Linked DNA regions of Homo sapiens: region 1 is linked to region 2. A link means that fine-mapping ties the variant in region 2 to the expression of a gene that starts in the linked region. Tissue or cell type: whole blood. Region 2 holds a variant in brackets; the other region holds the start of a gene. All regions are shown on one strand. Distances are from middle to middle.

The links. PIP is the estimated chance that this variant, and not a neighbour inherited with it, causes the effect.
Region 1: TNFAIP6 starts here. The variant in region 2 is fine-mapped to the expression of TNFAIP6 in whole blood (TOPMed, PIP 0.98).

The regions. Positions count from the first base shown.
Region 1 is chr2:151,354,947-151,359,098 of GRCh38, reverse strand. TNFAIP6 (TNF alpha induced protein 6) reads right to left here and starts at 1,507. Exons shown (of 6, transcript NM_007115.4): 1 at 1,339-1,507. The coding sequence starts at 1,432. The region is part of intron 2 of LOC101929319 (a long non-coding RNA gene); the gene reads left to right.
Region 2 is chr2:151,305,281-151,309,633 of GRCh38, reverse strand. LOC107985827 (a long non-coding RNA gene) reads left to right here and starts at 2,735. Exons shown (of 3, transcript XR_001739220.1): 1 at 2,735-2,751; 2 at 3,841-3,926. The variant T/G (reference allele first, on the strand shown) is at 2,478.

The DNA.
Region 1 (4,152 bases), 50 kb before region 2:
TCTCTCTACCTCTGGGGCAAAACTTCTATTGTCCAGGTTTATATTTTTGTAACATATGACAACACTTTAAAAGACAACTCTAAATTACTTGATTATTAGAGGGTTTGATAATATTTCAAAGTTTATCTGCCTGGATTTAATTCTTACTAGCTTTATGACATTTAAAAAAAATCCTGACAAATATGAGTGTATTTCCTATATTTGACTGTATTCAACTAAAATAAAGAGATGGGCTCATTCCTCTACTAAATTTCAGATCCCGTCTTGGCCAAATGGATCACAGTGAAATTAGTTCACTGGCTCAAGCTGAAAAAAATAGGCGGCAAGGCTGTGCATTACAAATTAGGCTTTTTAATGAAATCCGCATGGTTGCAGTTATTACCAGAGAGAAACATGCTGAAAGGGAAAATATTCTACAACTGTGCTGTTTAGAAAGCATAAAATCAAAATCTAGGTTAATTTCGCCTTCTCTTTATTTCTTTATTCTATGCAAGAATCTATGCATTTTTCCCCAAGAAATTCAATTTTTTTTTACTATTAAACACAATAATGAACATAGAGCAATATCAATTTGTATCATGAGAATTAAAGCATTGTTTAGCATACTGTAATCTAAGGGGTGTTTTGGATTTTCTGCATTTTCCTTTTTTGATCTATTGTTTATCTTCACTGTTTGGCCTGTCTCATTCCTTACATTTAACAAAACAAAATAACAAAAGAAACTTTCCTTGTCTAACAAAAGGGTCAGAAAAGTATTTATATGGATAGTAGAAACAGAAAGAATCAAAGTGGTAAGAATGCATTCAGAAGGAGAAACATTTTTCACTTTTTTCTGTACTGCAAGCTGGCTTGGTCAAAATAGTCAAAATGTTTGAAAAAACTAAGATATAGACTATAGCTCAGAGTCCATGAAGCAATTATTATAAAATTTTCGTAGACTCCAATTTACCTGTTAGGATTCTGAAATCTGATTGCAAATGCATTGACATAAAAACAGAAGACTATATTGGAGTTTCTAGTTGGTTAAAGAAATACTCCTCACTGTACTACTACATCTGCTTTGAAAAGTTTAAAAATATATTTTCATACTGAATATAAATATTAACTGCTATTTTCTACTGAACAATTCACTTTATAAAATGCTATTTTTAAATTTTAGAGGACAAGAACGCTTAAAAAAAAAAAAGCGTATGTATTCCAAAGGCTATCTTTCCTAAGCATTTTCTTTGAGAACATCAGCCTTGTACAGAATAGAAAAAGTTACTGCTTTAAATTTCCTTCTCCATGATTTAAAGAATTGACATTCTCAACAAGAGGCTCATGAGTGAAGGTTCTTACCAAGCCATATGGAGTTATGAAAAATTCCATCCTTGAATCCCCATCCTTGAGTGTCTTCCCATAGCAAGAGAAATAAGTAAATTAAGATGATCATATCGTCAGTTGTAGTGAAGTAACAGCCTGTTAGGGGCTGCTCACAAATTCTCAGAGCAGTGGCTGAAATGTGACTGAAACATCTGGTTTCCACATCTTTTAAATAGTTTTTTTCAACTGTGAGGTCAGCAAGTACTCTCCAATGGCATTTTCCGCTGTAGAGTTACACAATTATCTCAGTGTCTGAAGCAAATCCTCTGACTCATTTGCATTGGCAACCAAAACTAAGGAGATAGAATGATCATCTATGTTTTAAAATTAACTTACTAAGAACGGAGTTCATTTATTGTTAGTCACAAACACTTTTCTGTTAGAAAGTTTGTGTAACTTGATGCAGATTTAGCAGTGATTAAAAGAAAATCGAACTTCAGTAGGAATTTCAAGATAAATCCTAAATGTCTTATTTGCAGTGTCAATTATGGGATATGGGGTTAAACACTAATCTTTTATTGGTAATGTTGGACTGGCTTTTCTAAACATTGTCAAGCCTGTGTAAAAAATTTAAAACAAAAAGTATGCACAGCTTGGAGAATCCTAATTTTTCTCCAGTGATATATGACTTCCTTATTCTCTGCCTGCTTTTCTTCCAGGGTGGGGTCTGTTGCAGTCTTTGGTGTGTTATGGTCAGCAGCTAAATAAATGTATCAGCTCCCAGAAAAGTATTTCAATTTCAGAGCGTCAGGATGTTCCAGCAGCTTTGGGATGTCCTATTATAACACAGTTTTCCCAGGCCACAAATTCTTGAAGTGTTGGGAGAAAGGTGGGTAGACTAACAAAGTTAATAAAAACTTGTCCCTAGCTTCCCTAGACCACTCTAACTTTGAAGAAGACGATCAAGGTAATAGATAATAATTATTACAGTAAAGTCATCATGTCTTCAAATATCCCAAACTTTCCTCTTCCTTTGTGTAGAATCCTTGGGTAACATATCTGATAATACTCCCACTACCGCTGATGCTAATGGCATTTCCTATTGTTCATTGATAGCCATTTATTGGCAACTTTTGATTTTTTTACAAAATTGGTCATTTTTTGCTACTTAGATTCTCTACTTTTGGTCTCAAATTGCTTCCCATTCACTCCTATTATAGCATTCATTTCTCCCATGCTTTCTTAGTCCCTCCAATGATGTTGGAGTTCTTTGAAAAAGCCAACTTGCTAGACATGCTCTGGTTTGAAGTTAGCTTTGAATCCCTTAGACATCTTTGCTTTGAACATCTCAGGTGTGTTCTGGTCTCATCTCTTCTCAAAAGAGCAGTTATGGGGATGTAGGCTGAGAGTACAGAATTTATTGGATGCTCACTGAGGTATACATAAAGTTACTAGCATTGAAAATCTTTATTTTGGACTGGTGGCACATGAAAGATGAGGGAATTGTATCCAAGTTCACAGATAGGGTTAGTGAATTTAAGTTTGTTGCAAAAGAGAAAGGTATAGTTTAGACCAGGTGGGTGTGACTATGGAGAAGACAGGCATGGTTACTGAGAGCAAGATTCATAGGTAGTTGGAAGGAATAAACCATGATATTTCTTTGGAAAGTATAATTATATGCGTATTTTAAGTTTGTGGTTTAGGAAGTAAATATAACTTTAGTTGTGCAGTGCTACAGCAAAACCTTCCCATAGTCTTTCCAATTCTTTTCTTGTCACATCCTCCAGCTGTGCCCTTTCTGCATCTCTCTCAAGCACCTAATTTCCCCCTAGTTCTCATTTATCAAAAATTACTCTCAGGAAAGGGTTTGCAATTAATCTTTAGTTAGGCCAGATAACTAAGAACAGATACCCTTCTGTGTTCATTTGCATTTTAATGAAGCTCCAAGTAGAGCGAAGTGTGAATGTTCAACTTCTTTTAACACGAAAATTTAATGAGTTGCTTTGATGAATTAACCCGATCTGGGGTGGAGGATTTCTTTCTCCCCTCTCCCAACTCTCATGCAGAATATAAATATTTCCCCTTACCTCTGCATAGTGTCTGAAAATCTCATCCTCCATATCATCAAGGAAATAGAGAATAATGCCTAATGATGTAAGTTCTGATTTTGAGGGGCATTCAATAAAGGAAAGAGGAAATGGGGTTTTCATATGGAAAAGATGCAGAGGGTAATCCTGAGGACGAGAGAGAAGAAAAGAGAGAGTAGCAAAGGAAATGTTGCCTATGAACTTACCTTGGAAGTTGTCTAAGAAGCACCCTCTGCCCAGCCTCCAGCACACACCACCCAGGATAAGCCTCATGAGGAGCTGAGAGAAGATACACTGATAAAAGTTCCTTTCAGGCCGGATGCAGTGGCTCATGCCTGTAATTCCAACACTTTGGGAGGTCGAGGCAGGAGGATCACGAGGTCAGGAGTTTGAGACCAGCCAGACCAATATGGTGAAACCCCGTCTCTACTAAAAATACAAAAATTAACTGGGTGTGGTGGCTTGCTTCTGTAATCCCAGCTACTCAGGAGGCTGAGGCAGGAGAATCGCTTGAACCCGGGAGGCGGAAGTTACAGTGAGCCAAGATCGCGCCACGGCACTCCAGCCTGGGTGCCAGAGCCAGACTCCATCTTAAAAAAAGAAAAAAAAAGTTCCTTTCAAGGTTCTGGAAGACTTAACCAGTCAAGTATTTTGCCTTCTCAGAGGAATGCCCTCCCCTTCCACTATCTCTGGGTCAAGATGTGCAGTGGCTCCTTTCGCACATATCACCACTAGCTGAAAACCCAGCAAGACTGCTTTTTGT
Region 2 (4,353 bases):
CTGCTTACCCGATTTAAAATCAGTGAGCTGTTCCTTGGGCTGGTTGGTCTGAGGACCTGAGGTCGTAGGTGGATCTCTTCACAGAGTAAGGGTGAGGACAGGGGACTGGTCTCCCAAAGGAGTCCCGCTGACCCGGGTCTTCGGCACCAAATGTCTCATGTGTCTGTGTGAAGAGACCACCAAACAGGCTTTGTGTGAGCAACAAGGCTGTTTATTTCACCTGGGTGCAGGTGGGCTGAGTCCGAAAACAGAGTCAGCAAGGGTGGTGGGATTATCATTAGTTCTTATAGGTTTTGGGATAGGTGGTGGAGTTAAGAGCAATGTTTTGGGAGCAGGGGTTGGATCTCACAAAGTACATTCTCAAAGGTGGGGAGAATTACAAAGAAATTTCTTTGTAATTTCTTAAGAAATTACAAAGCGTGGGGCAGAAACAAATCACAATGGTGGAATGTCATCAGTTAAGCTATTTTCACTTCTGTGGAACTTCAGTTGCTTCAGGCCATCTGGATGTATATGTGCAGGTCACTGGGGATATGGTGGCTTAGCTTGGGCTCAGAGGCCTTACAAGGGTGTGTGTTCTGGGGCAGACAATCCCCCTTTCCCAGTTCCACAGCTTGGGCAATCACTGTGTTTGGGGTGTCTCCCAGGTCCTGCAGGAGCAATCCTCTTCCTTCAGAGGGTCTGTGGGTTTTCTTGGCTTTCCTGATTTATTCCTGCAGTAGTTCTGGAGCAAAAGTTCATGATGAGAGTGTCCACACACTGCTCTGTCTGTCCAAGTGGGAGCTGCAAACTGTCCTGCCTCCCATCTGCCATGATGTTCTCAAGTCTCTCTTGTCCCTTCTCTCTAAAATGCATTGGTGAATTCATTCTTAAAAATACAGGTAAAGCCTCACATTCCCTGTGAGAACACCTCCAACCATCTTTTGCACATCTCTAGCATATCACTTAGCATATCACGTTAGAAAGTTTTATTTGATATATTTCTCTCCTTTGAGTATAGGAAACCTCAGTTTCATGAGGATAGCAATTAGCTGCATTTATTTTGTTTGTTTGTTTTTGTTTTTGAGACAGAGTCTCACTTTGTCACCTAGGCTGGAGTGCAGTGGCGTGATCTCGGCTCACTTCAACCTGCACCTCCTGGGTTCAAGCAATTCTCCTGCCTCAGCCTCCCGAGTAGCTGGAACTACAGGTGTGTGCCACCACACCCAGCTAATTTTTGTATTTTTAGTAGAGACAAGGTTTCACCATGTTGCCCAGGCTGGTCTCGAACTCCTGACCTCAGGTGATCCACCCACCTTGGCCTCCCAAAGTGCTGGGATTATAGATGTAAGCCACAGCACCTGGCCTGTTTATTTTTAAAAATAGTACCAAGCATATAATAAAAACTCAATGAGTTAGTGAATGAATGAATGTAGTGAATACAAGATTCAGTCACTTAACTATGGAGTGACAACCATCTTCTTTTACTCATTTAACACATTTATTTGGCAATTATTTGTTTCATGTCTACTTTATGCCAGGCATCAATCCAGTACAGCCAATGAGCAAGACACACAAAGTTACTGCTTTCATGGAGCTTACATTCTAGCAGCAGTGACAGAGAAAAAATGGAGCAATAAGTAAACAAGGAAATTATCAGATAATGATGAGTGCTTTGAAAGACTCAGCATAGGCTGACATGATAGAAAAGAGGGTCAGGAAAGGCCTCTCTGAGGAGGTGACATTGAAGCTTAGATCTGAATGACCTGAAGGAGCCAGCCATGCCAGACAGATGGGAAGGCTGGAGCAAAAGCCCTGTGGCAAGAATGAACTTGACCAATTCTCCAAAAACAAAAGGGAGAGCAAGGTGATGAAAGAGCTTAATGAAAGGGGGAACTTACTGTGAGGGGAAAGGTAGGCAGTGGCAGGTACTGTGGGGCTGCGTAAGCCAGGTTGGGCATATGGAGTTGAATTTATATGCAGTAGGAGGTTTTTCAGCAGGTGACAACATGATTTAATTTATGTTTTAAAAAGATCACTCTGGTGTCTCATCAGAGGAGAACTTATAGTGGATTAAGAGGGGGAGCAGGGAGTCATCTCAGGAGGCTACTGCAGTTGTCCAGGGAGAGTTGATGGGATGGTGGCTTGGATGGTGATGGCAACAATGGAGAAGGGAAAGAAGTGTACTGGTTCAGGGACATTTTGGAGGTTTGCTCTTGAGTTGGATGAGTAGCAAGAGGGGGTAAGAGCTTTCAAAGATAGTTTGATGAATGCAAATCCTTTATTCACTTTTGTTACCAGGAATTTAGTACTAAGGATTTTATTCACCTTTGTGACCAGGAATTTAGCACTAAGTATTAGTCAAAAGAGAAAAGAGTGTGGAATCCTTTTGCACATCCTTGCCGATGGCTATTGGGTCAAGTGGAAAGGTAAAGAAGACTTGTTTTTGGACAGAGGCTGACCTTGGGGATACTAAGCATTTTCTTGAGGAGGGGAGT[T/G]CTTTGGCTAACAATATTTAATATGCCCTCGCAAGATACCAAAACCAACCAGCAAGAGACGCATAGCATCTACTGAGGTGCCAACAATATCAGAAGTTGAAGATGCCAACACAAAAGGACCTCTTGGGCCTTTCTTTTAGGTGTGTCAGTGAATGTGAGATGTGGAGAGACAATGGAACATGGTTAACTGAAGTCTTTTTCAAAAATGCCTTCTAGGAGACCATCAGGCTGCCTACTGGAGCTTTGGCTGCTTTTCTAGCCAAATAGGAAATGTGTGAGTGTCCTAAGGGCTCGGGCCCCGTCTTAGTCATCTTTGAATTCCCACCCAAGGATTAGCAGAATGCATGACATAATACATTGCAAGAGCTGAGTGAAGATTTAAGCAAAGGGAAAAATGATAATTGTCCCAGAGGATAGTCCAGCCCTTTGTATGCTGTAACCTCAATATCAAATTTATGTTTTGTGGTTTGGCTATGATCCCATTAAGGCTAATTTCTCTTTCTTGGGAAACATTCGATCATAATCAATTCCTTTGTTCCGTTTTTTTTTTTTTTTTTTTTTGAGACAGGGTCTCACTCTATCACCCAGGCTAGAGTGCAGTGGCATGATTCAGCTCACTGCAACCTCCCGAGCTCAAGCGATCCTCCATCCTTGGCCTCCCAAGTAGCTGGGACCACAAGTGTGCACCACTGTGTCTGGCTAATTTTTGTATTTTTTTTGTAGAGACAGAAAAATACCCAGCTTGGCTAGTCTCAAACTCCTGGATTCAAGCAATCTGCCTGTCTTGGCCTCTCAAAGTGCTGGGATTACAAGCATAAGCCACCATGTCCAGCCTTCCACATGTTTGATTAAATATGCTAAACCCAATTTTCCAATGTACATTTACAAAATAATTTTTATTTTTTGTTCTGTTGCAAATTTTTGTGTCACTTGATAACTAATTGCCACCTCAGTTATATTTACTTATATGTACAAACATACTATATACAAATTTTCTTCATTTGTTAAAGAAAATAAAATTTAATTGAATAAAAATTATGAATACAAATAAACAAGTGTAGAAATAAAGGGTACCCATAACTTTGCCTTCAAAGAAACTTTAAAGATTTACACAGGGACTTTTTTCTATGTATATATACGCATACACACACACACACACACACACACACACACACACATTTTGTGGGGGTGACAAAAATGGGATCACTGTAGACTTAATGTTTTGCAATTGGATTTAAATATTCTTTTAAAATATAAGTAATATAATTAATAAGTGGGAACTTAACTTTGAGTTCAGAGTGTGCTGCTTCTTCTTTTTCTCTTTTCTTTGACAGTATTTCTTTTTATACCTTTTATAACATAGAACATTATTCTATGAGCCCAACTGAGAAAATGAATGGAAGTTCAACTAAGTAAGATGTCAGCCCAACTTAAGGACTTAGGCATCTGGTGAGTGGTTGGACAAGATGACCTCTGATTTCTCCAACTCTGAGATTCTGTGAATGGAGACAGGAGATAGGAATTTGTAAGGCTAATTGGACTGAAAAGACTGAATTACTGGTATAAGGGAGTTCTGGGAAATTAGGTTGGAAAGGTGGATTATGGCCTGGTTGCATTTACATCTTGGCTCTCCAGCTGGGCATGTAGATGCATGTTGGGAGCAAATGCACATCAAAGAAGAGTGACAAGATCAGGAATCTTCTGCTTCCCCTTCTCCTTCCCCTTCCCCTTCCCCTCCCCCTTCCCCTCCTCCTCCTCCTTTTTCTTCTTCTTCCTCCTCTTCTTCCTCTTCTTCTTTTTTCTTCTTCTTTCTTCTTCTCCCTTCCTCTCCTCTCTTTTCATCTTCCTCTTTTCTAACTTTTATAGAAAATGAATA